4 separate regions of the Homo sapiens genome follow, and all the other regions are linked to region 1. The links come from fine-mapping of genetic effects on gene expression. A gene starts in region 1. Each other region holds a variant in brackets. All regions are shown on one strand. Distances are from middle to middle. Region 1 holds the start of ARAP3 (ArfGAP with RhoGAP domain, ankyrin repeat and PH domain 3). Region 2 overlaps ARAP3 (ArfGAP with RhoGAP domain, ankyrin repeat and PH domain 3). Region 3 has its middle 47 kb from the start of ARAP3. Region 4 holds the start of LOC124901093 (a long non-coding RNA gene).

What was found. PIP is the estimated chance that this variant, and not a neighbour inherited with it, causes the effect.
Region 2: its variant is fine-mapped to the expression of ARAP3 in whole blood (TOPMed, PIP above 0.99).
Region 3: its variant is fine-mapped to the expression of ARAP3 in whole blood (INTERVAL, PIP above 0.99).
Region 4: its variant is fine-mapped to the expression of ARAP3 in whole blood (INTERVAL, PIP above 0.99).

The regions. Positions count from the first base shown.
Region 1 is chr5:141,678,868-141,687,005 of GRCh38, forward strand. It overlaps ARAP3 (ArfGAP with RhoGAP domain, ankyrin repeat and PH domain 3), which reads right to left and starts at 3,363. Exons shown (of 33, transcript NM_022481.6): 1 at 3,306-3,363; 2 at 1,096-1,636; 3 at 894-955; 4 at 678-789. The coding sequence starts at 1,619. RefSeq lists a silencer at 3,363-3,412.
Region 2 is chr5:141,657,994-141,665,993 of GRCh38, forward strand. ARAP3 (ArfGAP with RhoGAP domain, ankyrin repeat and PH domain 3) reads right to left here. Exons shown (of 33, transcript NM_022481.6): 18 at 7,318-7,381; 19 at 6,929-7,092; 20 at 4,050-4,262; 21 at 3,691-3,796; 22 at 1,786-1,933; 23 at 1,415-1,483; 24 at 586-660; 25 at 372-486. Among named protein-coding and RNA genes, the nearest start is that of FCHSD1, 11 kb to the left of the region's middle. RefSeq lists an enhancer at 1-1,068 and a silencer at 7,179-7,248. The variant C/T (reference allele first, on the strand shown) is at 4,079.
Region 3 is chr5:141,725,354-141,733,491 of GRCh38, forward strand. No RefSeq gene overlaps it. Among named protein-coding and RNA genes, the nearest start is that of ARAP3, 47 kb to the left of the region's middle. The variant C/A (reference allele first, on the strand shown) is at 4,905.
Region 4 is chr5:141,704,038-141,712,175 of GRCh38, forward strand. It overlaps LOC124901092 (a long non-coding RNA gene), which reads right to left. Exons shown (of 2, transcript XR_007058973.1): 1 at 805-8,138. It overlaps LOC124901093 (a long non-coding RNA gene), which reads left to right and starts at 1,764. Exons shown (of 3, transcript XR_007058974.1): 1 at 1,764-1,840; 2 at 3,488-3,629. The variant G/A (reference allele first, on the strand shown) is at 3,781.

The sequences.
Region 1 (8,138 bases):
ATGTTTATTGTTAATAGACTATCTCCCCACAAGGGCAGGGATTTCTGTGTACGCTGATCTATCCCAAGCATCTACATCCGGTGCATGATAGTTGCTCAATAAATATTTGTTGAATGAAAAAATGAAAAGCACTTCTCCTGGTTGGGCACAGTGGCTCATGCCTGTAATCCCAGCACTTTGGGAGGCCAAGGAGGTAGGATCACCTGAGGTCAGGAGTTCGAGACCAGCCTGGCCAACATGGCGAAACCCCATCTCTACTAAAAATATAAAAATTAGCCGGGCATGGTGGCACGCACCTGTAATCCCAGCTACTCGGGAGCCTGAGACAGGAGAATCGCTTGAACCCAGGAGGGGGAGGTTGCAGTGAGCCGAGATTGTGCCACTGCACTCCAATCTGGGCAACAAGGCAAGACTCCGTCTCAAAAAGAAAGAAAGAAAGAAAAGCACTTCTCCCAATTTTCCATTATATGACCATTGGTTTGTCTACTTGTTTTATTCCCTGTCTGTCCCACTGAGTCACAAGCTGCCTGAGGGTGGCACTAGGTCTGTGATACTCATCCTGTATCTTGAGTGCCTGGCTGGTGAATACTCAATGCACATTTGTTGAATAACTGGATACATGGCCGCCACCGACTCACCTGCTCCTCCCTCCCACCACTTCCCTATTTAGTACTCACCTGTGTTCAGCCCTGCCCTGACAAACACCTCTGCTCTCTCTTCTGTCGGGGGCTCCTGGAGTCCCCACAGGTTGGACACCATAGTACAGGCAACCAGGATCCATGATGTGCACTGGCAGGAGGAGAGGGGAACGCACAAGGAAGAGGAGATCGCTGGGAGTGTATGAGGTCCTGCCGGCACTATCCCTCTCCCCCAACCCGTGATAACCCAGTTACCTGTGCCTGTTGTGGGCCTGAGGGCAGGGGTGGGGGCAGAGATTTGGGAGCTGTCTGGGGCCCTGAAGGGAAAGGTCTATTGGTTACTTAAGGAGAGAGGAGGAAGAACAAGCCTTCATGCCCTGCTCCCCGCCTCCGTCCCCCTCATGCTCTCCTCCCCACTCCTCCCAGCATCAGTCCCTAGGGAGCCAACTCCACTCACTTGTCCTGAGCTGCCTGTGCCCTGCCTCTTGAGTCCAGGCCGAAGTAGATGGAATTAGGCATCATCTCCACAGTATTTAGGGCTGAAGACTGCTCAGAGGAGGAAGTGGGGAGAGGAGGAGGCCTTGGGCTGGGCTCTGGGCTCCTGGACACTCCTGGTCCCCCGAGGGCTGGGCTCAGCCCAGGTCTCTGAGTGGTGGCAGGGCCACTGAGTCCACCAAACACGGTCCTGGGCTTCGGCACGGGCTTAGGGGGCTGGGCTTGCGGGGCTGGGCTGGGGGATGGTTCCATGGCACTATCTGATTTGGGATCCAGGGAGCCCTCTTCGGTGCCTGTCTGTAGCAGGCGTAGAATGCGTTTCCGGTGCCCTGTGGCGCTGATGCCCAACTGCTTCAACTCCTCGTGGCCCAGGCCCCGGGCTGCACCTGCTGTAGCCAGGCCATGCCGTCGGAACGTGTCTGCATACTGCTCCAGGTGCACCGTGGCCAGCCACACAGCGATGTCCAGGTCCTGAGGGGCAGCCATGGGGGCTCAGGCCATTGCTGGGGGGAGGGGCAGGGTGAAGGGAGGGCTCAGGCTGAGAATCCCCCTCTCTGCCCCAGAGTCTGAGGCCTGGACAGTGAGCACCAGCCTCCAATCTTCCTCCAAAGAAAGATGCTGAAAGGCCTGCGATCTGGAAGCAGAGCCATCCCAGAACAACAGCAATGGCTCTCTACTTAGGGAAGGGACTTCATTTGAAGTTAAGGAAACTGAGGCCCAGAGAGGGGAAGGGGCTTGCCCCAGGTTCACAGTAAGTCAGTGCTAGAGTTGGCCCCTCAGTTCCTGCCCACCCTGGGTCTGGGTCAAAGCTCTGCTCCTGCCTGACTGCACATCCAACTGAGTAAGCATGGGACAAGATGCTAGAATGCTGTGGGTCAGAGTGGGATAGGGAGATGCAGAGGAGGGGCCAATGATGTGGCCAATCAGCTCTGGAGTAAGGTAGGGAGAGGGGCAGCCTAGATAGGAGGAAGGAGGTGCAGACGCCCCCTCCCTCTTGTTTCCAGAGCCGATGTATGCAGGCCTGCCGTCCTAATCCTGGTTGTTCCCAGTCCCTCCTCCCCTTCCACCTATTGTCTCTGCTCAGACTTCCTTCCTGTCCCTCCAGCCCTGGCCGCCTCCACATCCTGCCTGCTTTGGTCAGGCTGCCGGGAGAGCCCTAACCAGTCCTAATGTGTGGGGTCCCGGCCCTGGGTGGAGGCTAATTGAAGAATAAGGATGGGGATGCCAGAGAGATGAGGCCTGACCTCTGGTCAGGGGTACTCCAGAGGCTTCTGGACTCTCTGCCCACCGGCAGCATGTTCACATGCTGTTCACCTGTGTGTGCACATGCCCTGTAGCGATTTGGCAGTGTGAAATGCCATCCCCCCACCTCTGCTTTCTCCAAGCCTTCCTTTTCTGAGCTTGCCTTTTCCCTGCTCATTCCCTTGGGCTCAGGTCTCTGTGCTCTGTCCCCCTTCCACCAGCCTGACCCCGACCCTGACCCTGGTCTATTTCATAGACCTGTCTCTAATTCTGTGGCCCCTGAGTTTTATCTCTGCCTTGTCACTGTCCCTGCCCCATTCCATCTCAACCTCTCAATTCTTCTTTGTCCCTCTCCTTGTCCCACCCTGTTTTGCTCTCTGTTATTAAGCTTGTCCTTGACTCAGTCTACAATTCTAACCAGATCTTGAGTTGTATCTGTGTCTCTGTCTGCCTCTGAGCCTGGGTTTCTGTCTTCCGCCTCGGCCTAGGCTCTCTCCCTGTTACTCTTGTGCTCTGTCGGTGACCAGGACGCCCTCTCCGTCCCAGCATCACTGCTGGCCTCCCTCTGCCTCTCTCCAGCTGGGCCTCATTCCCAAGCCAGGGCCCGCGTGCTGAGCCTCGGGCCCTGACTCAGGGCCCGGTTTCCCGGTGACTCAGGCCGGGCTCGACAGCACGGGGCTGGGAGCTGAGGTGCTCGCGGGACAGGAGTGGCGGGGGCGGGGCGGGCAGTGGCGGGCAGCGCAGGCTGCGACGAGGGAGGGGGCGAGGAGGGATGGGGCAGAGGCCGGGCAGCAGGAGGGAGGGGCGGGTCGTGGCAGGGATGGGGAGGGCCGCCGGCGCCGAGGGGGCCTGGGAGCCCACGAAGGCCCTCGAGAAGGTGATGGGGAGGAGTCTGGGAAGCAGGGACCCGGGGGGCGCGGGGGTCCTCACCTCACTACGCGGCCGCCGTCCGCTCGCGGGTGCCCGCCGCTCGTCCGAGGTTCTGGGTCCCGCCGCGCCGGCCCCGCCTCCCCTCTGCCCTCCCTCGACGGGCCCAGCCCCGCCCCGCCCGGCCGGTTCCCTCCGCGGGGCCCCGGCCACTCCTTGTGCAAGCGCAGGCCTCCAAAGGGTTTGGGCTTCTTGCCCAACCGCCGCGCTTATCTCCGAGTCTGCCCCCAGTCTGCCCTCTCGCAGGCCGAGAAAGGACCAGAACACGTTGGGACGAAGACAACCTCAGGGAGAGGGACAAAGAGGCAGAGACCGGGACGGAGACTGGGACGGAGGTAGAAACTGAGAAAGGGAGAGTGCCAGGGACGGCTTTGCATCCTCTCCGCTGCTCCCATGCCCTCCAGTCCTGCCAAAAGGGAGGAGGAAAGGTCGAGCCCTAATCCCCCAGGGCACCTCTCCCACGCCCGGAAGGGTGGCTGGACCCTGGCAACCAGTTTAGTGTGGGGACGGAAGCTGGACATCCAGAATTGAGACTTGGCCTGGGCAACAAGCGCAGAGGCCCAGCAGAGGGGTACCCGTCTGTTTCTCCCCACTTCCATCCCCAAGGGCCCGGCCTAGGTTCCTTCGAGGGATGAAGGTCCGCAAGGCACATCCCTACTTCCAAACCAAGGTTTGGGGCTGCCTTTTTGGGACAGGCGGACGCCCTGCAAGCTCAGTGACCAAGCAAGCAGCTGTTTCATTCATGGGAGAAGCCGCCCCTTCTCCCCAACTCCCACCCTAAAATTTCAGGGGGGATGCCGGGGAGGCCTGAAGAGGAATGGCCCTTCTCTCCTTCGCTAATCTTGCCGGAACCCCGGTCCTGGAGCCTGTCTCCCAGGGGCGGAGGCACTTCCCTCTCTGAGCAGGACCAGTGTTTGGGTGTGGGGGGGGGGTGTTTGTGTGTGTGTGTGTGTGTGTGTGTGTGTGTGTGTGTGTGTGTGTGTGTGTGTATGTGTTGGGGGTGGCGGGGGCGCTGGCCGGCTGTGTTTTCCTGTTTGTATGAGAGGAAGTTGGCTGTGAGTCAGCAGACACAGGAACTGTCAGTAGCTAGGGGAAGACCCCTGCCTCAGGGGAAGAAGAGGGGAGTGGGAGGAAGTGGTTCCCACCTCTTCCAGCTGCCTCAGCTAGGGGAGGGACTGTCATCTTCAACCTACTGGAGCCCCACTTTCCCGGCCTTCCCTTTGAGAAAGAGAATTATAGTAATAAAATAATAATTGCAATAGCCATAATAAGGGCTACCAATTATTGAGAGCTGACCGTGCTCCAGGATCTATGTAAACATTGCTTTGCAAACTTTAATCCTCACAAATATCCCTACAAATAGGAAATTTTATCACCTCTATTTTACATATAAGGAGACAGGGAGCATTAAATAACTTGCTCAAGACTCTGCAGCTAGAAAATAGCCAACCCTCCAAGTCTATATCTATAACTACCATGCTCACCTACCACCCTGGACAGGACCCCTGCACCATGTCCTTTTTTTCAGATGGGCAACTGTGGTGGCAGTGAGAATGCTCCTCACAGATCTTACACTGTGAGGAGTGAAATTAACCAATGGCCCCAGCTGCTTCTCTCTGAAATCTAAGGCCAGCTTCCCACTGGGCTGCTCCCAGCCAGTGACAGAGCTCAGCAGAGATCTAAGGCAGACCCATTCCTGGGAGATAGGGGACTCCTTTGACAGCTGACTTTGGATCAAGATTTCCCAATGGCTTTGCTGAACTTTCCTTTGACTGGTGTTTTAGGATGCTCCTCTCAACCTTTATTCCTTCCCTCTCTCCTTCACAGCTCTCCTAGCTCCAGGCTCCCTTCCTCTCTCACAGGCATCTCCCCTAGTCAAATCCTTGCATTCTGCCTTGGCAGCTTCTTCTTTAAGGACTCAGACTAACCCAGCAAAATAAGGGAGCAGGAAAAGACAGTAAAGGGCACAGGGAGTTTTGAGGAATGGATGCCGGGGAGTTTGGGTCAGGGGCTAGATGCAAGAGTTCTGAACCTTTTTGTGCCATGTTCTCCTTTGGCAATACGGTAAAGTATGTGGTCTCATCTCAGAATAATATTTTAAAATGCATAAAATAAAATATATAGGATTGCAAAGGAAACCAATTATGTTGTAATACACATATAAAACCGATGTGATATAGTAATATATGTGCTTCTTTATTAATGCTTTAAATAAGATCTAGTGGTAGGTTGATACCTCACATAACTTTGATGCAGTGATGAGCATAAATGGTATTTCAAAAGATCTGCAATATTGTAATATGATATAAAAATATATGTGATTTCTACTGGTGACAAAGCCATAGTTATGGCTAAAATGACTGGTTTGTTGCTATTGTCATAATTGGAGGAAATGTTAAATTTCAGCTAGAGATTAGTGAAAGTAATATTCTTTTCCCATCCAAGTCCACTGACTCCAAGTTAAGGACACCAATGCCAGATGATGGGGCAGAGCCACAGAGAGGGAGACCTGGCTTCCTCCCTCAGACCCCACTTCCCTTCTTTGGCTCAATGATATGGGGCAGGTGGAGGCTTCTGGCCCCTGGCTTGTGTCTTCCTGAGTTCAAGCAATTCTCGTGCCTCAGCCTTGTGCCTCAGCCTCCCGAGTAGCTGGGATTACAGGTGCCTGCCACTACACCCAGCTAATTTTTGTATTTTAGTAGAGACAGGGTTTCACCATGTTGGCCAGGCTGGTCTCAAACTCCTGTCAGGTGATCCATCCACCTCAGCCTCCCAAAGTGCTGGGATTACAGGCGTGAGCCACCATGCCCGGCCGAAATTAGTAAATCTTAAATCTTAATCTTAACACATAGGACAAAAGGGACACTAGTGAGCAGAGGAAGAGGAAGAATGAAGCAATGAGGAGATGTGGAAGGGAATTCTTCAATAGCCCCTTCCATGTCTCGATTTGTTCCCCACTCAAATGATAGACTATTAAGCCACAATCACTTTGGAGGCCACTTTGTTCACCAAAAGTGGATGGTATGCAGTAATTAAGAACAAGGTCTCTCGGCTAGGCACTGTGGCTCACACCTGTAATCCCAGCATTTTGGGAGGCCAAGGCAGGAGGATTGTTTGAGAGCAGGAGTTTGAGGCCAGCCTGGGCAACATAGCAAGACCTCGTCTCTACTAAAAATTTTAAAATTAGCCAAGTGTGGTAGTGTGCACCTGTAGTCCCAGCTACTCAGGAGGTGGAGGTGGGAGGATTGCTTGAGCCAGGAGGTGGAGATTGCAGTGAGCCGAGATCGTACCACTGCACTCCAGCTTGGGTGACAGTGAGGCCTGTCTCTAAAAACAAAACAAAACACCACCACCAACAACAACAAAAACTAAAACAAAAGGTCAACAAAAAAACAGTCTCTAAAATAAAGCCCTGATGCCACCTCTACCAGCTGTGACCTGAGCAGATTATTCATCTCTATTTTGCCCTGTGTGCCTCAGTTTCCTTTTCTGAAAAAAGGAGAGAGAATAGTGCCTGACAGGGTTGTAAAGATTAATCTATGGAAATATATGGGTAATATGTGGAAAGGACCTGACATTCAATGAGTGCTCAAAGTGTTTCCTGTTCCTTGTTCCTATTTTTGCCAGTTACTTCCATGATAACTCTGGTATGCACCCAGCTTGCCTGTTTCTTCATCACTCTGGCATATCCCGTTACCTATTTTAATCAATCAGCCTGTGGCATCCTATTGCCAAATTAGACCACATTGTACCCCTTGTATTTTCCCCAGGGTCCCCAGTTGTCATCTTGTCTGTTCCATCACTTTTGTAACTCAATTTCCTGTCACCCCTGCAACTCCTGATCGCCTCCATGGTCTCCAGTGGCCTCCAGGTCACACTCCTTTCCTGCCCTTACCCTCTGGATGGTAAAAGGCACAGCCATCACCCACATTTGGTCCTGATGAGATGGGACAGGGCCTAGGGGGATGCCAAGGTGCAAGTTTCTTTTTATTTATTTATTTTTTTGAGACAGAGTCTCCCTCTGTCGCCCAGGTTGGAGTGGAGTGGTGCGATCTCGTATGACTGTAGACTCCGCCTCCCAGATTCAAGCGATTCTCCTGCCTCAGCCTCCCTAGTAGCTGGGATTACAGGCGCCCACCACCACATCCGGCTAATTTTTGTGGTTTTTTTTAGTAGAGACGCAGTTTCACCATGTTGGCGGGGCTGGTCTTGAACTCCTGACCTCAGGTGATCCGCCTGCCTTGGCCTCCCAAAGTGCTGGGATTACAGGCGTGAGCCACTGCGCCCGGCCGAGCATGTTTCTTACAGGAAGGAAGACTCCCATTCAATCCTTTCATTTATTTCTCATGTTTTTATTAATCATCTTTTCTGGACCAACCACTGCTCAAGGGTTTAGAGATGCAATGACGTGCTCAGCAGACTTTAGGGAACATGACCTGCTCAAGAAGTGAGACATTTATCAAACAACCCCCAAATAAATGTGTAATTACAAACCAAGATGAATTTTCTGAAGGGAAGCACTGTAAGAGCATATAACAGAGGCAGCTGACCTGGCCTGGGGGTCTGGGAGGCTTCTGCAGGGAGCTCTGCTTAAGTTGAGATCTCAGAAAGATGGGTAGGAGTTAAGCGGGATGGGAGGGAGTGTTCTAGGCAGAAGAACCACGAGTGCAAAGGCCCTGAGGTAGGAGTCAGCCTGGTGAGGAAGGGAGACAGATCAAAGAGACAGGGAGTTTGGGACCAGCTGAGACTGAAAGGATCTCAGGGGCCAGGCCATGCAGGCCCTTGGAGGGCTTGTATGAGATTTGGTCTCCATGCCAGGAGCCATGGGGAGCCAGG
Region 2 (8,000 bases), 21 kb before region 1:
TAATGGCATTTAAAACCATGAGAATGGGTTAATTCATCCAAGGAGAAATGTAGATAGATGAGAGAAAAGGGCCTAGGATTGAGCCGTGGGTCTCTCCAACATTTGGAGTCTGGGCAAAAGAGGAAGAGAAGCTCCCTTTAAGGTAGAAGGTAAACTACGAGCTTGTGGGGGTCACTAAGGCCAAGATGGAAGAATACTGAGAAAGAGGGAGTGAGTCAACTGTGTTGAATGTCCCCTCGCATGGATGAGTGGATGAGTCATCCATGAGTTACCATTCATATTTGGTAACATGAAGTCACTGATGACCTTGACCACACAACCACACACACGCATATACACATGCATGAACACACAGGCGTGGTCATACTCACCCAGCTCCCCATGCTCGCGAATCTCAAAAGTCACCCACAAGTCCATCCCAGCTGCTGTCCCCCGCATCTCCAGTACCTGGTTAGTCAGCTCCTCAGCAGTCAGGGTTGGGGACACCTGGGGTCAGGGCAAGAGCAGAGAATTCATGCTGGTCAGGCTATTGCCCCTGGAACCTCACTATCCTCTTATTTCCCCTCCAGTCCCCTCAGGACCAACCTTCAGGGTGACACAGTTGTCTGGGAGCTGCTGCTCTATATAAACTTCCATGATGAGGTCTCCAGCCTGAGACAGCTGAGGGGAGGGGTAAAAAAGTCAGAAGGGCAAAAAAAGGGTGCAAAAGACATCAAAGTCAGAGGGTTCCTCGTGTTGCCTCATAAGTGACTCTTCCAACAAAGGTCTCCTCCCAACCCCAATGTCACTCAGGCTCTTAAAAGGGAGACCTCTGGGAGTGGCAGAACTGCATCTTTAGGCTGCACATGTACTTCCCAAGGCATCATAGTGGTTGGGAGGACAGATGTGGAGTCAGACTGCCTGGTCTCTCTGCCACTCGCTACAGGGTGACCTTGAATAAATGACCCGCTGAACCCGTTTATTTGAAAAAAATGAGATTACCTACTTCATGGAGTTGTATCATACTAACATGAGATTAGAGATGCTTGGAATATAGTAAGTCCTCAGCTATGTTTGCTATTATATTTATTATTATTATTCTCACTGCTTTGTCTGACTTTACTAACTCGTCCTTGGATCTCTTACACTTAGTAGTATGGTCTCACTTGATGTTCCCACAGAAAACCAAAACCAACTATCCAGTGCCAAGATTATCACCAGGAAGAATCCTCATGGTGGAACAAATGGAGCAAACCCTAACCAAACCCCACTCCCCAAAGCACTTCTCTCATTGGGTTCCCCCTGTCTCCCAAAGAGCTGAGTGCTAGTGTCCAGAAGGACAGGCTGGAAACTTCCTCAACTGGGCAGAAAGTCAGCTTCCTGTCCTGATGTCTCCTCCTGCCCCATTCAGGAGACTAAGGTCAGGACGAGTTACCTGCACGTCCTTCCAGGTGGTGATAAGACTGACCTCCAAGTCAATCTGAGCTACCTGGTCAGAATCGATCTGTGAAAGAGCCAAAAGAGAGTGTTGGGGTGCTGGAAGAGGATCTGCCGGGAAGATCTCAAGGCCAAGGAGGACCTGTTTAAGAGGGCTGGAGGCCAGAAGAGCTAAGAACCAAGGGGGTGAGGATGTTGGAAGTGAAGTTGTGGGAGAAGAAGGGCCAGGGCTCTGGGAGGTAGTTCCTGGTATAGCTGGCCACCAGAGGCCTGGGCTGGGGGCTTGTTGGGGTGATCAGGATCCAGAGTCTCTGGGTCCTGCAAGGGTAGGGGAAAGGGGTTGTGGGTTAGGGGTCAGGAAAGCCTTACATCAAAGACAGAGATGTAGCCATCAATGAGCTCTTGCAGCACTCGCACCTCGTGCTCCCCTCGCCCATCCGTCTGGAACACGCTGGGTGCAAACAGCAGAGCCAAGTTCCGCGTGCACATCTGGTTTAGAGCCGCACATTTCTGCACCCTGCAGAGGGGTGCCACGGTCTTCATCAGTGTAGCCACTCATTCAGCAAACACTTATTGAGTCCCTATTGTATGCCTGGGCTAAGTGCTTGGAATACAGCAGTAAGATAATATTGGCCTCAAGGAGCTCCCAGTCTAGGGGAGACAGATAAGGCAAGAATCAGCAAACTTTTTATGTAAAGGGACAGATAGTAGACATTTTAGGCTTGCAGGACAGACAGTCTCTGTTCTAACTCTCAGCTCTGTTGCTGCATCATGAAAGGAGCTATAGAAAATATATACATGGGCCGGGCGCGGTGGCTCACGCTTGTAATCCCAGCACTTTGGGAGGCCGAGGCAGGCGGATCACGAGGTCAGGAGATCGAGACCATCCTGGCTAACACGGTGAAACCCCGTCTCTACTAAAAATACAAAAAAAATTAGCCGGGCGTGATGGTGGGTGCCTGTAGTCCCAGCTACTCGGGAGGCTGAGGCAGGAGAATGGCGTGAACCCTGGAGGCGGAGCTTGCAGTGAGCCGAGATTGCGCCACTGCACTCCCGCCTGGGCCACAGAGCAAGACTCCGTCTCAAAAAAAAAAAAAAAGAAAATATATACATGAATGGGTGTGGCTTTACACTTTATGTACAAAACTTTATTTACAAACATAGGCAACAAGCTGGATTTGGCCCATGGGCCTGTAGTTGACCAATCCCTATAATATAGTATATTTTTATTATTTATTTATTTTTATCTTTTATAGAGATGGGATGTCTCACTATGTTACCCAGGCTGGTCTCCAACTCCTGGGCTCAAATGATCCTCCTGCCTTGGCCTCCCAACATGTTGGGATTACAGGTGTGAGCCACCATACCTGGCCCCTGTAATATAGTATAATCAGTGCAATACAGAAATGGCTTCTCCCCAGAATTGCTCAAAGGCCTGTCTCCCTAACAGATTGGTAAAGGTAGATGTGCATCTTATTCATTTTTGTGTTTCTTATATCTAACCCTTTCCCTGACATCGCATAATAAAACAAAATAATATTGATTGCTAACCATTTCTGAAGGCTTATGACATGCCGGATGTACTGGCATGTACTATAGTTAAGAATTTTATGAATTTTAACTCTTTTTGTTCTTTTTTTTTCCTTTTTTCTTTTTTCTTTTTTTTTTTTTTGAGACAAGATCTCCCTCTGTCACCCAGGCTGGAGTGAAGTGGTACAATCTTGGCTCACTGCAACCTCCACCTCCTGTGCTCAAGCGATTCTCGTGCCTCAGCCTCCTGAGTAGCTGAGATTACTGGTATGTACCACCATGCCAGGCTAATTTTTGTATTTTTAGTAGAGGCTGGGTTTCACCATGTTGGCCAGGCTAGTCTCAAACTCCTGGCCTTAGATGACCCGCCCACCTTGCTTCCCAAAGTGTTGGGATTACAGGTGTGAGACACCACGCGCCCAGCCTTCATTTAACTCTCTCATAAACTATGAGGTGGATATGATTCATTACATCATCCATTACTTCCTTTTAGAAATGAAGAAATTGAGGCCCAGAGAGAACAAGTAACTTACCCAAAGTCACACAGCTAGAATGACGGCACCAGATTAAAGCCTAGGTCTGCCTGATCCCTCAAATCCATTCTCTGAACCTTAGTGCTATGATACCTTCACTTAACAACTGTTTGTGGAATGAACAAATGAATGAATGAATGAATAAATGAATGAAAGTGCAGGGTCAGATTGAAGTGAGGAAGGGTTCTGCAGAGGGTCTAGCCATACTGACCGATAGAGATGCCCAATGAGGGTGGCCAGTGTGCGGCGGTTGACCCGCGGCAGGCAGCCAATCACATCTTTATATTTCTCCAGGCGCTGATTCTTCTGGGGCAGCTCTGGGGATGGAATGGAGGAGGGTTGGGGAGGACCCGGGAAGAAAGAGTGGCAGCTGGTACAGAGGGAGGGATTTTTAGGCACAAATGCAGGATGGATGTGTCTCTGCCCCCTTCCCACCTCCCCCTGAGCCAAGTCTCTGGATGATCCCCCAGGGTGGGAAGTGATGGGGCGGAGGGCTGCCAAACCATGGATTCTGGTGGGGGAAGGCAGAGATCCTGGTTGGGCCTTGGCTCTCAGGGATCTTAGGAATACCAGCAGCCTCCCTCCAGCGAGGCAGCAAC[C/T]GTGCAGAGGTCACAGGGTCATCGAGCTCACGAAAGAAGCGTTTGAGTGTGTCAGTGACATCCTCCACAAAGTGCTCCCCTGGTCGGAGCTTCACCGACCGGGCATCCCGACGGAACTCAGCCAGGAGTCTCAGGCTGCGGGCACGAGCGCCCCCTTTCCGGTATACACCTTCCAGCCGGAGCCCTGAGGAGAGCCAGCCGTCTCTGCTCACCATGGTGCAAAGGCTACCACCACCCACCACGGCCCATCTGTGGCCTCCCTATGTGGTATGTGGCTGATGGGGGCATGGGATTCAGAGAGGAGGAGATCTATGCCTCCATGTTCTTGATTCTCAGGTCTCTGCTGGAGTCCTCATCCTCAGAAAGTCCTTCCCTGACCTCACTGTCACAAGTACAACCCCCATCACACTGTATCTCCTCACCACTTTTATTTTTAAATAGCACTCTCTGAAATCACTTTATAGTCCACCCTTATTATCTGTGGATTCCATATCTGCACATTCTCCTACTTGCTAAAAGTTATTTGTAACCCCAAAATCAATACTTTTGGCATTTTCATCATCATTTATGAACAGAGTGAAGAAAAATTTAAGTCCCCTCCCCAATGTGCATGTTCTTACTCTAAACAAGTGTATCCTTTTAATGGTATATTTACAGCCATATTTTTGTGCTTTTTGTTGGTGACTTCACTGTTTAAAATGGCCCAAGTATAGTGCTGAAATGCTGTCTAGTGTTTCTACGTGTGAGAAAGCTGTGACATGCCTTACAGAGAAAATACATGTGTTAGATTAGCTTGAGTTACAGTGCTGTTGGCCTTGAGTTCAGTGTTAACAAATCAAACAATATATATAAAATAAGGTCTCTTTACACAGAAAAACACACAAAACAAGGATACATATTGATCACTTGACTAAAATGTTATTGTAACCAGAGGCTAGCAGGAAGCTAACCCTGTATTTCCTCTGGGGCAGTGATCCAGTATTCACTAATTAAATGTTTGCAGTGACTTAGAGCATAACTACCACAAATAACAAGAACAGACTATATTTGTTTTCTTATTTATTACCTAAGAGATGGGTAATAAATAAGCTTCCTAGGACCCTCCTAGGACCCACCCTGCTTACTGCCATATCCCCAGTGTCTGACACACGGTAGCAGCTCAACCAATGTATGCTGACTAAACAATGGTGGTGCAGGAACCTTGGAGGGGAGGGGATGAACACCCAGATTCTTTCTTTTTAATTGAGACAGAGTTTTGCTCTTTCACCCGGGGTGGAGTGAAGTGGTGCCATCTCAGCTCACTGCAACCTCACCTCACAGCAATTCTCCTGCCTCAGCCTCCTGGGTAGCTGGGATTACAGGCACCCGCCACCATGGCTGGCTAATTTTTGTATTTTAATAGAAACAGGGTTTCACCATGTTGGCCAGGCTGGTCTTGAACTCCTGACCTCAGGTGATCCACCTGCCTCGGCTTCCCAAAGTGCTGGGATTACACACTTGAACCACCACGCCCGGCCCCATATTCTTTCTTCAGGGCTTTCTCACTGGGCCTCTGACTTATTTCCTCCTTCGAACACGAGAGAGGCTGAGAAGAGGATAAGGATGTAGCGAGTGGGGGAGGTCACTGAACAAGGCCACTGCCAAGGCATGGAAAATGTTATTAGCCACTGACTTTCCATGTCCCATGACTAGTAACAATTATGTGTATGTTTGTGGAGGCGCTGTTTTTTTCCTTACAGTCAGCCCTCTGTATCCATGGGCTCCACAACTGCAGATTCAACCGACATCAAAAATATTTGGAAAAAAACCCCAAGATAACAATATAACAACAACAAAATACAAATAAAAACAATACAGCATAACAACTATTTCCACAGCACTTGCATTGTATTAGGTATTATAAATGATCTAGGGATCTGCCCACCTTAGTTTTCTGTGAATTTTCCTTCTTAAGAGTCCAGCCTTCTAAAGAGGGTTCACAGGAGAAATAGATTCTTTTCGGTCCTTATTTAGGATAAAAAACTTACAAAGGGCCAGGTGTGGTGGCTCACACCTGTAATCCCAGCACTTTGGGAGGCCAAGGTGGGTGGATCACCTGAGGTCAGGAATTTGAGACCAGCCTGGCCAACATGGTAAAACTCACCTGTACTAAAAATATAAAAATTATCCAGGTGTGGTGGGGCACGCCTGCAATCCCAGCTACTTGGGAGGCTGAGGCAGGAGAATTGCTTGAACCCGAGAAGCGGAGGTTGCAGTGAGCTGAGATCATGCCACTGCACTCCAGCTTGGGCAACAGAGCAAGACTCCATCTCAAAAAAAAAGCAAACAACAACAACCAAAAAAACTCACAAAGAATTATGGGGGCCACTTGCACAGCTGACCATTTAAGCCCAGAAAACCTCCCACACAGAATAATTCTGCTTAAAACTTCTGGGAATGTGCTGCACAGCTCAGCTCTCACCTCGCAGCTGCTCGCTGTTTGCCATGGCTCTGTGTCCTCAGTCACATTTTCAGTGCTCCTCCCCTACTCCACACTCTGACGAAACTTCTGAACACTTACTACATGCCAGGCCCTGCGCTCAAGGCTTGACAGGCATTGTCTCACTGTCACAATTATCCTGGAAAATGAGGACCGTTGGCCCCATTTTACAGATGATGGAACTGAGGTTCAGAAAAGCAAAGCAGCCTGCCAAGAGTCAAATGACCAGCTGGGGTCCAGCTGCAGTTTCTGGAGGCAAAGCTCTTCCAGGCTGTGCTCACGTTCCACCCTGGCTGTGCTCACGTTCTCCACCCCCTCATCACCCCCACCCCCCACCCCCATTGGCTCAGTACCAGCCAGTGCCTACTCACCATGCTGGGTAACAAAACTGATGCAGGCATCCACGATGATGGGGATGTCACCCCGGCTCATCTGCTGCTCCTGCAGCCCTGTGCCGCCCCCACCAGCCGCGCCCCCAATGGCTGCGTTCCATGCCGTGAAGTCCAGCCGGCCCTCTCCTTGCAGATACAGGGTCCTGAGACCCCAGAGGCCTGAATCAGAGCCAGCTCCGACAGGCCCAGATGCATGGGGACCAGACTTCCCAGAGCCACCAGCAGAGGGCAGCAACACCCAACCCAAATCATCCTGGAGCAAGGGAAGAAACTTTGAGGAAGTGGGCAATGGCCCAGCAGGCCAGGTTGCAGAGTATGGGCTCTGCTCCAGGAAGGGGAGCCCCAGGTCAAGGGCAGGGGCAATTTACCTTCCTGTCTCCACCAGGACCAAATGCTCTTTCTTATCTGGGGTGTCAGCTGCAGAAACCACACCTGGGAGGAGAATCAGTGGACATTTTCATGATTATCGTCTTCATTATAGAGACTATTATTTATTAAATGCTTAACGTGCATAGATGCCAGGCTAGGAGCATTACAAAAAACGTTCAGTTGAATCCTATGAGTTATGTACTATTATTCCCATTTTATAGGTGACACATTAATCTCAGAAAGTTTAAGTAACTTGCCCCAGATTACTTGCTATAAAATGGCAAGGCTGAGCACAAACCCAGGTCTCTTGTTTCCAAAGTCCTAAAATATTATCTTACATTGTTCCTCTTTTAGGAGAAAGGAAAGCAGTGAGGGCACCCAGTCCCCTCTCCCAGGACCCAACCAGCAAGTGATTCCAAATAATAATAATATTTATAGACCGGGCGCAGTGGCTCACTCCTGTAATCCCAGCACTGTGGGAGGCCAAGGTGGGTGGATCACCTGAGGTCAGGAGTTCAAGACCAGCCTGGCCAACATGGTGAAACCCCTTCTCTACTAAAAATACAAAAATTAGCTGGGCGTGGTGGCGGACACCTGTAATCCCAGCTACTTGGGAGGCTGAGGCAGGAGAATTGCTTGAACCTGGGAGGCGGAGGTTGCAGTGAGTTGAGGAGTTGAGATC
Region 3 (8,138 bases), 46 kb after region 1:
CAGCCAAGCCACTTGTTGCTCAACACTTTGCTGCTTAGAAATTTCTTTCTCGGCTGGTTGCAGTGGCTTACGTCTATAATCACAGCACTTTGGGAGGTTAAGGTGGGTGGATTACCTGAGGTCGGGAGTTCAAGACCAGCCTGACCAACATGGAGAAACCCCGTCTCTACTAAAAATACAAAATTAGCCGGCTGTGGTGGCACATGCCTGTAATCCCAGCTACTTGGGAGGCTGAGGCAGGAGAATTGCTTGAACCTGGGAGGCGGAGGTTGCAGTGAGCCTCACACCATTGGACTCCAGCCTGGGCAGCAAGAGCGAAACTCGGTCTCAAAAAAAAAAAAAAAGAAAAGAAAAGAAAGAAAGAAAGAAATTTCTCCAGATACCCTAGGTCATCACGTCCTCTCTCTCTCTCTCTGTTTTTGAGGCATGGTCTGGCTCTGTTGCCTGGCTGGAATTCAGTAGTGTGATCCCAGCTCACTATAGCCTCCACCTTCCAGGCTCAAGTGATCCTCCCACCTCAGACACCTGAGGAGCTGGGACTATAGGCACAAGCCACCATGCCCAGCTAATTTTTATATTTTGTGTAAAAATCGGGTTTTGTCATGTTGCCCAGGCTGGTCTTGAACTCCTGAGCTCAAGCAATTCACCCACCTCCACTTCCCAAAATGCTGGGATTATAGGCGTGAGCCATCAGGCCCAGCCCCCAGGTCGTCACTCTCAAGTTCAAACTTCCACATATCCTTAGGGCATGGACACAGTCCAGCCAAGCTTTTTGCTAAGTCATAACATGCTTGACCTTTGCTCCAATTCCCACTAAGTTTCTCATTTCCATCTGAGACCTTGTCAGCTTGGCCTTCATTGTTCATATCACTATAAGCATTTTGGTCACAACCATTTAACCAGTCTCTAAGAAGTTCTAAACTTTCCCTCATCTTCCTGTCTTCTTCTGAGGGCTCCAAACTCTTCCAACCTCTGCCTGTTACCCAGTGCCAAAGTTACTTCCACATTTTTTTTTTTTTTTGAGACAGAGTCTCACTCTGTTGCCCAGGCTGGAATGCAGAGGTGCGATCTCAATTCACTGCAACCTCCACCTCCCAGAGGCGATTCTTGTGCCTCAGCCTCCCAAGTAGCTGGGACTACAGGCATGCACCACCATGCCCAGCTCATTTTTGTATTTTTAGTAGAGACAGAGTTTCACCACGTTGGCCAGGCTGATCTCAATGTACTGACCTCAAGTGATCTGCCTATTTTGGCCTCCCAAAGTTCTGGGATTCAGGCTGCTTCCACATTTTCAGGTATCTTTGTAGCAATGCCCCACTCCTCAGTACCAATTTTCTGTATTAGGCCCTTCTTGCATTGCTATAAAGAAATACTTGAGACTGATAATTTTTTCTTTTCTTTTTTCTTTTTTTTTTTTGAGGCAGAGTCTCACTCTTGTCACCCAGGCTGGAGTGCAATGGCGTGATTTTGGCTCATTGCAACCTCCACCTCCCGGGTTCAGGCAATTCTCCTGCCTCAGCCTCCCAAGTAGCTGGGATTACGGGTGCCCACCATCACACCTGGCTATCTTTTTTTTTTTTTTTTTTTGTATTTTTAGTAGAGATGGGGTTTCACCATGTTGGCCAGGCTGGTCTCGAACTCCTGACCTTAGGTGATGAGACTGGATAATTAATAAAGAAAAGAGGTTTAATTGGCTCATGGTTCTGCAGGCTGTACAGGAAGCATGATGCTGGAATTTTCTCAACCTCTAGGGGAGCCTCAGGAAACTTACAGTCATGGCAGAAGGTAAAGGGGGAGCAGGCACATCACATGGCCAGAGCAAAAGTAAGAGAGAAAGAGGCAGGGAGGTGCCATACACTTTTAAACAACCAGATCTCATGAGAACTCACTATCATGAGAACAGCACCAAGAAGGGGATAGTGCCAAATCATTCATGAGAAATATATCCCCTTGATCCAATCAGCTCCTACCAGGCCCCACTTCCAATACTGGTGATTACAATTCAACATGAGATTTGGGGTGGGGACCCATATCCAAACTATATCATGGGGTCTTGCTATGTTGCCCAGGCTGGTCTTGAATTCCTGGGCTCAAGCAATCCTCCTGCCTCAGCCTCCCAAAATGCTGGTATTACAGGTATGAGCCACTGTGCCTGGCCAAGAGGATTCTTTTATAAGGGCACTAATCCTCATGATCTAATCATCCCCAAAGGCCCTAACTCTAATACCATCACATTGGTGATTAGGTATTCCACTTATGAATTTTGAAGAGAAACCAACATTTAGACCATAGCAACTGGGCTCTCCAGCCATGGAAAATGGGTTAGGGAAAATATGAGAACTGGCTAAGGGTATCTGTATGCTCTCAGCCCCCGTCTCCAAAAGTTGGTCTCTGCCCATGACCATCTGTGTAAAATGACACAAGGATCCTAGTTGGGTCATCTTCACTGTGCCAAAGGCAAAACAAGTTCTTTAAATTTACTGCAAACGCTCATTGGGGATGGACCAGAGTGTTTGTTAACTCCAAACACCAATAAATGCTGATAAATAATGCTATTAAAAACGTGTTATTGCTCTGACACTTTGTTATAACATCTTTCCTCTTACGTTTTCCCCATGTAACATTTACTTTAAAAGGCCCCAGCCAAAAGCCGAACGCCAATAAAACTGCACCAAGTCTCCCAGAACATCTTCATTTATGAAACAGTCAAAGACTCAGCTTCAGGGAGAAGCCAGTGAGATATTCCACTGTTTTGTAAACTTTGAAAAATCTGTAGCTCCTGTAGCTGAGGCCTAACTGCACATTGCATTTGAAATTTTGAAGCTTCAATTGCTTAAAAATATTGTAACTGCTTCTCAAACAGGAAAATTGCATTTAGATTTCCCTCTGTGTTTAACCTCAGACTGGCAAGAGATAGTCTTCAAATTTCCCCGGCAAATGAAAATCACTTTAGGATTGAGATTGCATATGGATAGTTCCTGCCATGAGAAAAAGAAATCTCCAGGAACAAATACAGTCATACCTTCTGTGCTGGGCCCATAACGTGGAGAAATAGATGATCATTTTGTCCTATAATCCACAGCATGAGGGATTTGGGACAGAGACAAGGAAAGACATTCTTGAATATGAGGTTCAGCCAGATCTGAACTGTTACTAAGGGAAATTGCAGTGTCCTGCACTCAATTTTCTTAGAGCCAGCCTCCTATAAAATTGTTCCATTCCTTTGGCACTTTCCATGTCAAAATTCCCATCTTCCCCACGGAGGCTCTAGTGCTTTCAAACTATCTCTTCTCAGTCAATCTTATAATTCATTCAAACTAAAGTGTGACAGTTTGCATTTTAAAGGGATTCAATGGGAAGAGGGCAGTGCTTTACTCAAAGGAATTAGTCAACATTGGTAAAATTATAGGCAATGACAGACGGTCTATTAGATGGAGTGTTAAACAGTGATCTACTTATAAGAGTGGTTTTACCTCTGATAAATGCATCCACTTTCCTCCCTCCCTCCCTCCCTCCCTTCCTCCCCCTCTACTTCCTCCCCTCCCCCCCTTCCTCCCTCTCTCTCTTCCTTTCATCTATTCAACAAACTTCTCTGGGGTGCCTGCTCTATTCCATTCTTTATGTTCGGTGTCGAAGTCTTGGAACAGGAACTTCCCACAACAAAGGGAACTGAGCCCAAGAAATAATAATCATAATCATAGAACTACAATTACCATTCATTGAGCGGGTGCTTACTACATGCTGGGAACTATGCTAGGAGCTTTTTCTGGATAGCATTTAATCTTCACAACAACCCAGTGAGGTAGGTAGTATTACTCCCTTTTCACAGACAAGAAAATAGAGGCACCATTCTTGGTCCAAGTTCGCACATATTAGGGTGTGTTACTGGGATACCAACACAGGCAGTCTGATTTCAGAGCTTTCTGTTCCAAGCAAGATTAGATTAAAATAAGCATATAGGGCAGGCTTTGAGGGGGCAAAGTACTTAAGGTGCTCTGGTCTACCTGAGGAGTTGTTTTAAGGGGCCGCAAGAAAAGCCAGCCTCTTGCTGAGTGTATAGGAGGCTCAGGTGAGGGGAGCCCCAGAGGGTCACCCCACTCTTGCGCACTCTCCCCCACGTCATCCCCTCCTCCTACTAGCAGATAGCAGAAGCCAGCAGCCTGGCTGTGCCCCAGGCCTGGCTCTGGTCAGGAAGAGGGGATCTTTTGTGAGTTTCTGGCCTGGTCTCCATTAACACCAATTAGCGTTTCTGCCTGCTTGGAGCTGCAGGGCCGACAGGCTTCTGTGATCCTGGTGGCTGGAGGTTCTGGCCTAGAAATGCTCAGGATGTGGGACAGAAGTCAGAGAGTCTGAGGGGAGGGACTTTGTCATTGAATGGAGAGGAAATGGGGTTTCACAGAGGCTCCCTGGGGCCCAGCAGCCTGGAGGACAGGGTTCTCTGGGGCCAAAGAGAAAGAAGAGAAAAAGACATCTAGGACTGCCTCCACCCCACCCCCGCATATCCCACTGTGTCTTGGCTAGGAAATTGGGGACTGGTTGTTGAGAGAGGAGGAGAAGTTCAAGAGTGGGCTCTGACATTCCTGGGCTTGCGCACCACTCTAGGATGAGTTCTTCTAGGAGCTTGGCTATCTAGAGTTGTGAGTGCCTTATTTCACCTTAAAGCAAGCCCAGAAAATTGGCCTCTGATTCCTCAGTAATCTAGGATTTGTGGCTGGCCATGGGTAAGCTTGAATAAATGGTATCAAATTAGCAGACTGAGTCCTTAGGAAGAGCTGGGAAGGGGACTGCCAGGAAAGCCTTGTCACCCCTTTATGAGGCTGTCTTTGGCCTTCTGGATGGATGTGGGTGAGAGATCCCTGAGTCCCTGTGGCCTGGGGAATGGCCCATGTCCACCTGCCCTAGAT[C/A]TTTCTTGTCTGCGTGTTCCCTTAACTCTCCTCCCTTATCCTCTGGCTCCCTTCGTGTTGTCCCCTCCATCTGTCCTTTTTGTCCAGTTGTGGGCTTCTTCTTGTTCTTCCCTCTCCATTGAGCCTGCTTAGCCGGCCAGCCCTCCAGCAGGGGTGATCATCCGTTTTCACATTTCCAGTGCTTACTTGGACTGGACCACTCACCTTGCTCCTGCTTCTTGCAGGAGGGCTGTCTCCCATGTTGTCTGAACAGCCAGTAGCTACAGATGTCCAGGAGCTGGTGAATATCACCCTTTGCCTGGCTCCAGCTCCACCTGGTTGCCCAGATCTTCTTCAGTGACCCACCCAGGTGCCCCAGGGTTTTCCAGAACCCCATCACTATAGATTCAAGAACATCACTTCACCTTTCAAACACAGAACTTACTGCCTACCTCTCCCCTACTCGCTACTGGGGCCTTTCTGAGCAATGCATGAAGGGACGGGGAAGTGGTGTCCACAGTAGGAAGGACCCAGGCCCAAGCCAAATTTTCTCTTTTCTAACCTCTGGCCCCGCTTCTCTTCCTTGCAGTCTCCACTCTCTTCTTGGGAGCTTCTCCAAGTTTCCATGGCAACCACTACTTCCTGGCCCCAAATCCCTAGGACATGGACAATTTCAAGGTCAGACAGAGGCCTGAAGGGTGATAGAGGCCTTATATTGACTTCCCAGGCCCCTTCTCTGTTGCTGCAGGATTCCTAAACCTAGATGACAAATGATCATTTCTTTCTGTATTGAAAAAAAGAAATTCACCATCTCCAAAGCCTCTCTTATGAGAGGCAGGTACTGCTGCCCCCTCTTCCTTTCTAAGTCTCTTCTCTCTACTTCTTGGCCTTATCTGAGCTTAGGCTAAAGCCCCAGGATACACCCCAGTCAGAAAGAGGCTCAGGCCCAGTTGGGCAGGGCATGCTATGGCCATGAAACAGATACCTCATCAGCTTTCACTACGTTGTCTACTTCGGGTCCCCTGGGCTGTGGGAGGCATGGGAGAGGGGCAGGGGACATTGCTGTGCTCTGTGGCAGGACCTGAGAAAGGTGCTTAGATGCCTATATACTAAGGTGTTTTTCTGCAGCCTGGACAACCTGTGAGGTTTTCCTGTCTGCCTTTTGAGTTGAGATCGGATGTCCTGGGCTCTGACTGCACATCAGCCACTAATATTAATGCAGATGGAATCGGAGCATTTAGACAAATACGTAGCTCCCATTTCCTGAATAGTTAGTGAGAGTCACTCAAGCATCATAACCTTGATGGAGAGAGCTACAATTATCCCCATTTTACAGATGAGGAAATGCAGGCTCAGAGTGGTTGAGTACTTGCCCAAGAACAAACAGCAAGAATGGCGTGGAGCTGGGATTTGAATCCAAATGTCCAGAGCTCCTGCTCTTAAATGTTGCAAAATACTTCATAGGCAGGACTCTTGCCACTTCCCGCAGCTCAACTCAGTGCTTTAGCTGGGTGTTGTCACCACTGGGGCTCTGAGGCCAGAAAGCTAGAGTCATGAGAGGCCAGGAGCTCTAAGGCCTGTCTCAAGGGACCTGCTAGTGTCAGGGCTCTGGGGCTGGGAAGGAGCTTTGAGAGGCTTTCTCTCCACCTGATGGCCACCCATACCCACCCTGTCATTGGGGGCTGACAGGAGCTGCTTTGCCAACAAAGGTGTCCCTGAAGCTTTCTGCGAGCTCGTCACATACCTCTCCCAGGCAGGGAGTCACTGGGCTTGACTCTGCCTTTCTAGCAGGTGCTGCTGCCACTCAGGGCTTCCTGAGGAGGAGGAGTCCTCCCAGGGCCTGCCTCATGCTCCCATAGCTTGAGATACACAGTCAGCATGTTCCTGCCTTCCCCCCAGCCCTTTGAAGCTGGGGTCACTAAGCTCTGGAGAAATAGCTCCCCACACCTAGCAGATAGAGCCTGGACTACCCGGTGTTGTGACAAGCTGGAGAACCTCCAACTGGCACTGAGGCCCTCTGTCATCTAGATCTCCCTTCCTTACACAGCTGCTAGCATGGGTTCCTTCCATCAGACTGGTCCCATGAACTGGCCCCTGGGCCTTTGCTGTACATGTTGATTTCATGCCTCTCCTTTTCTCTCCCCTTCTCCCCTCTCTCTTCTCTGTTTGTCCAAATCCTGCCCACATAGGAAGGTTGAGCTCCACTCTCACCTCCCCCAGGGAGCCTCTCTGGACTACTCCAGCCTACAATAAGAGCTCCTTCCTCTGAGCTTTCACAGCTCACAGAATATAACTAAATTCTATGGTATCTCTCATCATATATTAGTCTTGTTTTTCCAATTAGTCCATCAGTCCCTTGAGGGCAGGAGACCACAGGTGACCCCTTTTTGCCTCTCCCAGTGCACTTAGAGAAGGGTTGGGCTTTCTTGGAACTCATCCATGACTGGTTGGCTAATTGGAATCTGCTGAACTCTATTCAGGGCCTGGCATGTATGTGTACACTGTATATAGATTTCATGTGTCTGTGTGTACCCTTGATTTACATGTTTGCACACATATGTAAGGTATCTGTGCTCATGCATGTGAATTATGGTTCATGTATGGCACTATGTGAATAAATGGTTTAATTAATTCAACAGGCATTTATTGAGATCCTGTCACAGCTGGGCACTGTGCCAGGTGCTGGGGATATGATGGTGAGTAAGAAATGGACAGCCCTAGCCCCTCAGAGCTGGGAAGAGAGACCATTAAAGAAGTGATAATAATAAGTGAGCTAAGTGCCATGATGGGGGAGCACATGCCAGAGGCCCTGACTTTAACCAGTCTAGGGAGACAGATCAGGGAAGAACTCATGGAGAAAGGAAAAGTTGGCAAAGACTTAGTCTGTTGAGGGTTAAATTGTGTCCCACTCCCTCCAAAATATATTCAAGTCCTAACTCCCAGTACCTGTCAATGTGACCTTATATAGAAATAGGGTCTTTGCAGATGTCATCAAGTTAAGATGAAGTCACACTGGATTAGTGTGCACCCTAATTGAAAGACTCTGGTGTCCTTCTAAGAAGAGGGGACACAGACACAGACACAGGAAGAATGCTATGTGACCACAGAGGTAAGATTGGGGTGATGTGTCTACAAACCAAGGATTGCAGCCACCGGAAGCTCTTGAGGGCGGGAGACCACAATTGACTGCCTTTTGCCCCTCCTAGTGCACTCAGACAAGGGTAAGAACCTTTCTGGCACTCAGAGAGAGACATG
Region 4 (8,138 bases), 25 kb after region 1:
AGGGAGACCTAGGTCCATAAACAGCCTGGCCACAGGGTGGGCAGAGCCGTAACAGAACAAGCCCAGGCAACTGTGGGAGCACAGACGAGGGGTATTTCACCCGACTTGGCTTCCCAGAGGAGGGTAATTTAACCAGACAAAGATCGAGGGTTAGGAATGTGTGAGGGATGGGAGGAAAAATATTCTAAGCCCAGGGAATTGCCTGTTGGGAGGGCACAGGGATTAAGAGAGTGAAGTCATGAGTGATTGGAGAACTGAAATTTCCATCTCCCATAATGGTTAAAGAAACAGCTTTGGAATCAAATGCCTGGCTTCAAATTCTGGGTCTGCTATGTGCTAGCTGTGTGACCTTGGTCAAATTATTTCATCTCTCTGTGCCTCAGTTTTCTCTTTTGTAAAATGAGTCTATTAATAATAAGGGTTAATAATAATATCCATTTCATTGGATTGTTGTGGAGAATGGATGAGATGGCATTTGTAAAATGCTTAGCCCAGACCTGGCATGAGGTTAACATTCAGTAACTGTTAAATAGTATTATTCTTCACTGTTGCTGAAGATGAAGCCATGGTGTGGGGAGGGTGAGAGGTGAGGAGGAGGCTCAGATCATGAAGGACCTTATAATCCATGGTAAGGGGTTTGTACAAACCTAAGAACAATGGGGAATTGATGGAGTGACAAAATCATATTTGCAGTCATCCCTGGCATCCTTCCTGACGCCTTTCTTTCACACCCCACATGCAGTTCATCAGAAAACATTGTCAGCTCTACCTTCATAACTCATTCAGCATCAAACCACTTCTTACCACTTCCATAGACTCTACCCTGGTCCGAGCTATTATCATCTCTTCCCTGTGTTACTGCAATGGCTTCCTAACTAGTCTTCCCACTTCTACCCTTGTGCCCTTACTGTTTGTTCTTCACACAGTGGGTGGAGAGGTCCTGTTAAAATGTAAGCCAATTAAAATTATTGTGTCATGCCTCTGCTCAACCCCTCCACTGGTGCAGCATCTCACTCAGGGTCAAAGCCAAAGTCTTTATAATGGCCTATAGACCCTGCAAGGTGTGGCCTTCTGCCAGATCTCTCCCTCTTCTCATACTCCTCCAGCCTTACTGGTCTCTGTGCACTTTCTCAAACATGAACTTGCCAAGTGCCATCCCACCTCAGGATTTTACACTTGCTGTTCCATCTGCCTGGAATAACTCCAGGTATCAGCAAGCCTCACTCCCTCACTTCTTTCAGATGTCTGCTCAATGAGGGCTTTTCTCCCTACCTTATATAATAGCAAGCCTATATCCTGCCACAGGATATACTCCCTGACTCCCTCCTCTGCTTTCTTTCTTTCCATAGCAATGATCACTGTCTAATACTATACATTTACTTGACTACTTATTATTGACCCCTCACCTCCCCACTGGAATATAAGCCCCACGAGGGCAATAGTTTTATTCATTGCTGTACCCCCAGCATCTTGAACAGTGCCTGGCACAGAATAGGCTCTCAAAAACTATTAGTTCAGTGAATGAATGTGTATGCATCAGAAAAAGACCACTGTGATGCAATGTACAGAATGAATGGGGTAGGGTGGGGCAATAGCAGAGGCTGGGAGGGAGACCTTTGCAATCTTCCAGAGCAGGGATGATGTCATCACATATGGGCCAAGGTGGTAGAACTGGAGAGGAGTGAGTGGTCTGGAGAGAAATTTCGGTTTCATCTGCAGGGTAGGGGCTGTAAAAGAAAGGAGGAGGTGAAGAATGATAGAGATGCCCAAGTTTTTGGCTTAGACATCTTGGTGGACAGTGGTGCCAATTATTGAGATGGTGAAAGGGGAACAGGCTGAGGTGAGGAGTTATTGATGTGAGCATCTCTGAGCCTTGGTTGCCTTATCTGTGGAATGTAGAAGATGACCTCTGCCCTGCCTACTTTCTGGGATGGTTATAGAGACAGAGAGAGGTAAAAGAAATGGGATCCCTTTGTATGAGTGCCCGGTGGGTTCCCAGATGTAAAGCAAAATTATTACTATTATTACTATTAAAGTCAACTCGGGGAGATCTGACAGAGAGGTAAAATGAGAACCTGCAGCAGAATCTAATCAAATGCCAGCCTGGGTGGAAGCAAATGCCAGGAAGCACGATTTAGTCGATATATGCAGTGGGTGGTCAGGAAGGGGAAAGAACAATGTGACCTAAGCTGTCAGAGGCCATGTGGAGGTGGGAGGGGGTACTCAGCTGGATTCTGGAGTGACAGAGGGGGAACCAGAGCAAAGGTTGGGGTTTGGTCAGAGGTTCACAAGCAGAGAAGCCGTGGGGTAGCTTGGGGATCTGGGGGTAGGCAGAGAACCCTGGGCACAGGATGAATGATGGTCACCACCACAGACTTCCTTTTCCTATCTCCACCTACCAAATGAGAAAACAGTGGTAATTCTCAACTGGTAATTCAATCCAGGAGAATGGGCAGAAACCATCAGAGCATGGCCAGTGGGGATCTGCCTCTGCTGTGTCATCCAGCCAGTTTTGCTCATGCCCATACTTGGTGCTGAGTAGAATGGGAAATATGGAAATACACTCTCTAATGTTCATCAGGCACCTACTAAGTGCCAAGGAGTCATGTGAACTTGTAGACTTGGTTCCTGCCCTCTGAGAGTTCAGGGTCAAGTAGGGAGACAAGCATTCAATAAATACTTTGCAGAAGCCCTGAGGTAGGTACTGTCATCCTTGTTTTGCAGATGAGAGGCTCACAGATGTTAAGGTCATCTGTGGTAGAACCGAGATTTGAACCCAGGTAGTTTGTCTCTAAAACTGTAACCACTGACGACACTGCCCATGGTCAGAGAGTCTGTGATCCTTGGCTTACACGTGGCAGGGACAGACTTGTACTATTCTGTCACCAGAGCCCTGGAGGGGTCAACAGGAAGAACTTGGGAAACTGGAGGGAACTAAAGGAGCCCCACAGAGCGAAAAAGGATCTTAGAGGCCAACTTGCAGACATGGCTATTTATTTTTTTACAAATATTTATTTCATTTCTTCTATATTCCAGGTACTGTGTGAGATAGTGATAGGTAGAAGATTCATTTATTGATTCACTCAGCAACTATTGAGCACCTACTATGTGCCAGACACTATGCTAAGCTGTGGGGTTACAAGAGAAACCAAACAGACAAAACCCTTGCCCTCATTGAGCTTATGATCTAATGGGAAGACAGAAAATAAACAAGATAAATAAGTTTAAATATATATATGTAGTATGATAGATAGTGATAAGTGCTAAGAAGGATAAAAAAGGAATTATGTGAAGTTGAAATTTTAGACAAGGTAGCCAAGGAAGGCCTCAGTGACATGAGGTGAGAAGGGCAGGCCAGGCTCAAGTCATGTAAGGCATTGCTGGTCCTTGTAAAAAATACATAGCTTTATATTTTTAAAAATCTAAAACACTATGGGAGGCCAGCAGAATTTTTCCCTTTTGTTTTTGTGTGCATGATTTTATGTAGGAGTTCCCTGGAGACCAATGCTCATGGAAGAGGGGCAGGAGGCAGGAATGGGCAGAGGGAGAAGATGAGCACAGGCCCGGCAGTGGCCTTGGCCGGCTGGATGAGGAACTCCAGTGCTGGACACGCCTCTTCTAGAGCTGTCGTGAGTTGGGCTGATGGCTCATCCTTCATCTCCCCCATCAGTCAGTGCTTGGGTGTAGAGACCCACGCAAGTGGCATGACCTTGGATGAGGCAGTTCTTTGCAGTTGATGCAATCCCGGAGGGGCTTAGAGCTGGAGGCTATTTCCCAACA[G/A]CAAGCCAGTACCAGGGGCAACGAGCCCTTCTCTGAACAGGGGCCTGGGCGGCTGTTCATACTGTCCATCCCATGTATCTAGGCCTTTCTTTTTCAGCCTATGATAGTGTTTATTCAGTGGAAGTTTTTAACCATAAATGATATAATCTGATTCACATATAATTTTTTAAAACAATCACTCCAGTTTCTGTGTGTGGAGAATAGACTGGGGTGGGGGCAGGGTGAGGTGGGGAGACCAGTTTGAGGCTGAGGCGTGTGGAAGTCCCAACAGGAGCCCCTGGGAAGCAGAGGAAGGACAGGCTCCTTGAGGCTCGGTCGGGCCCTGGGCCTGTGCCCAGTGACCCTTCTCCCACAACAGAATAGCAAACACAGCGACCAGTCCGCACCTTTCAACCTGGGTGCGGTCCCAAGGTCATCCTGCATCTGGAGCCACAGAGGTGGTGGTGGTGGAAGATTAAGTCCTCAGAAGGTCAAGTGAGCTTGTGGCCAGGCGTAAGTTCCTTTAGAGTCAGGAACCTCAGCTCTGTGGACCCGTTTCCCAGCATCTGCATTTCCCCCTTCTTTCCCCTTTTTTCTTCCCTCTGTTTGGTTGATACGTTTCCTTTAAAAAATCTTACCTTATCTTAGCAGAACTGAGAGGAAAGGAGGTGTGCCTGCACTGGTGAAGGCTGGCTGGCACACTGTTTCCCCACTCCCCATCCCATCCCCCGGGCCAAGCATGGGGGTGTCGGGAACCTGTCCCAGCCAAGAGGAGGAGCAGATGGGCAAACCAGGAAAGAGAAGTTAAGGCCACTGAACCTCCTGCCTGGAGTGGACCTGTCCTTCAGGAAAGGAGTTGAGGGATGGGAGGGCTGGAAGTTTCCTTGGGCAGCCATTGGCAAGATAACAGGGTTGATCTGGTTTCTGGTTTCTGCTCAGATGCGTGATGCGTAGTCCCTAGCCTGGGAAAGTCCTAGCTAACAGATAGACCCAGGCAGCAACTTTTCTACCCTCACCAAATGGACAAGCAAGCTGCTTGTCTCACCCTCAGTAGTACCAGCGAAAGTCAAAGCTATGTAGGGTGGAACAGATCCCTCCAAAGAAACTGGACCCAGTGCAGGACCTGGTGCATTTGTGAACTCTTGCACTTGCTGTTCATTCTGGGAATGTTTTCCCCAGCTCCTGCATGGCTGGCTTGCTCATCTTCGTTCACGTATCAGTTCAAATCTCAGGCCCTCTGGCCACTCTGTCTAAAATAGTCCTCCCACTCCCTCCCCATCACCTCACCTGTTTGGTTTTGTCTCCCTAATAAGCACATATCACCATCTGAAATGATATCTTTTACTGGCTTATTTCTTGTATGCTTCCTCGGGCTGGATTGGAAGCTCCATGAGGCCGGGCCCCTTGCCTGTCTTGTTCATCTCTGTATCTTCAATGTCTAAAATAGTGCCTGGTAGGCACTTACTACATTGTGAAATGAAGGAATTAAGTGTCGTCTTCTCCCTCATCCCTCAAAACGTCAAGGATAAAATCAACCCTGTGAGCATATAAATGGCCATAGAGGGACAGTCCCTCCAAAGAGGTTGGGCGCAACCCTAAGATCCCAGGCCATGAGCCCAGAGTGGGAGTGTGTGTGTGCGCGCACACGTGCACGTGTAGTGTGCGTGCATGTTTTGTGTGTATGTGTCATTGTGCATGTTGTGTGTGTGTGTTTTTTGATGAGAAGAGAGAAAACCATTCACTCCAAGCTGAGGTTCCTGCTGCACTAAATACAGGGACTCCCAAAGTCTGATCAAAGGCCAGCTTCTTTTAGGGAGCGGGAAAGGAACAGGGGAAGGAGAGAGGGCTTCTGAAAGTGACCCCTAGGGCTCTGCAGGCCTTTGCAAGGCCTTAGGCTGTCAGCTGGGGGTGCCCACCCAAGTATGACCACATCATCCCCACAATTTCCAGACCCTCTGAACCCTGGCTGCCCCTCCTCCCAGAAAAGTGTCAATGTGAAGAAGGGGAATTTGCTCTATCAAGTGTGACCCAGGGTTGGTGATGAATACCAGAGATGGTAGGATCAGCTAGAATAACATGTCACACGGTGGGCTGCGTCCAGGAATGCTGGATTGGGTAACTGGCAAATTGAAAGGCTGCTTCATACTATAATGGTTAAAGAAAAAGGGAATTATCTCATGCCTTTCTTTTCGTCTATCAAGGTGTCAGCATATGCTAATTACCTGGCAAAGGCTTCAACGAGAAGAGGAAGAACAACTATTATATTTCTGAGGAAAGATTTATCTTGCGTTATTGGCGCCAGTTGGAGGAGGAGGTGGGGGTGGTAGGGGGTCAGAGAGGCAAAGTGAGAACTGTTTTTTGACTTGAATGGAATAGAAAATGCCTTTGAACTGAGGTTTTTCTCCTAAGATTAGAAATAATAAGCCTTGTTGGGAGAGGCTTTGCTCTGAGCCTGTGGGCAGAAGAGGGGGCAGCATGGGTGGAGGACTCTAGCATCCTAGGAGGTTGTGGGAAGGGGTCAGGCTGGGCAGTCGACTGGGCAGGGCACGTAGAACTCCTCCATTCATCCATGGATTGTATTAAGGAGGCTGTATAGGATGCGTGTTCAGAAGCACAGGCTTAGAGTCAGGCAACCCTGGGTTTTGAATCCTGGCCCCACTACCTCCTAGCTGTGGTCTATGGCACATTGCTCTATGTTTCAGAGCCTCAGTTTCCTCATCTGTGGGGAAAATAATACCTACTTTATATTGGTTACTGTCTTAGCTAAATGGTATCATGTGAAAGAGATTTTCAGTGTAGCTCCATAAGCAAGAGCACCGGTGGATATTATTACTCAGCATATGTTTTCTGAGCACCTACTGCAGTTCAAGCACTAGGGAAACAGGTTAATAAGTCAGATAGGGCTCTGCCCTCCAGGAACTTATCACAAAATGGAGGGCCTGAATCTCCTTTGGTTCCCTCAGAGATCCCAGAAAGTGAAGAAAAGGGGTACAGGGAACAGGGAAGGGCCCTCAAGCTTTACATGAGGCTGTGCTTCCCCCATTATAATGATAATAACAGTGAACTGGATGCTTGATACACATGAACTCGAAGTGGAGATTTGGTGGGTAAGTGTTGAAGGCTAAAGGATCACCCCAGGAAGGAGCTTGGAGGTGTCAGAGCTTAACAGGATTGAGTTTGCAAGAGACAGGCGAGGGGCTGGTCAGGATCCAAGCTGTGGAGACCAACACTGGGGGTCTAGTACCTCCAAGGGGGTCTGTCCTCAGGAATGGAAGGTCCTGGGGCCAGATGGACTGACTCCCATGAGTTGACCCCAATGCCAATGTCAAATTTCAGCTGTCCCAGGCCCCTCCATTCAGGATCAGCAGCTGTGAGCAAGTGAGCTGGAGAGGCAGCCTGACATGGTGGCAAGTGTGCAGCCAATGGTGCAGAGATCTGAGTTCAAATCCTATTCCTCATACTTATCAAATGGTGGACTTGGGTCACTTCCTAACCTCTCTGTGCCTCTGTTAAATACAGAAAATGAACTCTAACTGTGGGGTTGTTGGGCGGACTAAAAACAAGGCATTCGAAGCACCTGGTGCACAGTAGACGTTCCCAAATGGTAGAGGTGATTACTAAAATTGGCCATCCTTGCCAACTATGTCTGATTCACTGCTGGCCCCAACCCCTGTGGCCTGGAGAGGCATTTACTGCTCTGGGGATGGCAGAGGAAGGAATGGGGGTGGCACCAGGTGGGTTGTGTGGCAGGCAGAGACTTTGAGCAGGTAATGGCTGTCACAGACCAGCAAATCACAGGTGTCGGGAACAACAGGAGTTACGCTCAGACTCCAAAGAACAAACACGCAGCACAAGACGTTTTGCCAAAGCAAAGCTGTTTTGATCGTTCCCGGATGTGACATGTATCGCATGAGGAAAGAGAGCCTCTTGCACTGAGGCTGCCTAATGGACAGCCGGCAGCTCCAAGCAGAGTGGCACTGGGCAAGGTGAGGATGAGGGTGGAGCACCCTCCTCATACTGCTGGCCTCTCCATCACCGCAGGCAAGGCTTCATAGCAGAAGCACTCTTGCCTGTGGAGTGAGGGAGGCTCACTATTCCCAATACCTCCAGATCCAGCCCTGGCCTCCACCTCTGCAGCCCCAGCCTGCATCACTCCTGGAACCCAGGCTCTGTGCCAGTCTAATTGAACTTCAAAACTTTGCCAAATGCGCCAGGCTCTGTCTGGCCTCCAGGCCTTTGCATATGCTATTCTCTCTGCCTTGGATTCGCCTCCCACCCACCTGGCTAGTAATGGCAAATGCCTACTTAATAACAAAAATAAAAGCAGCTTACATTTATTGAGCACTTACTCTGGGTTAAGTACTTACCCAATTTTATCT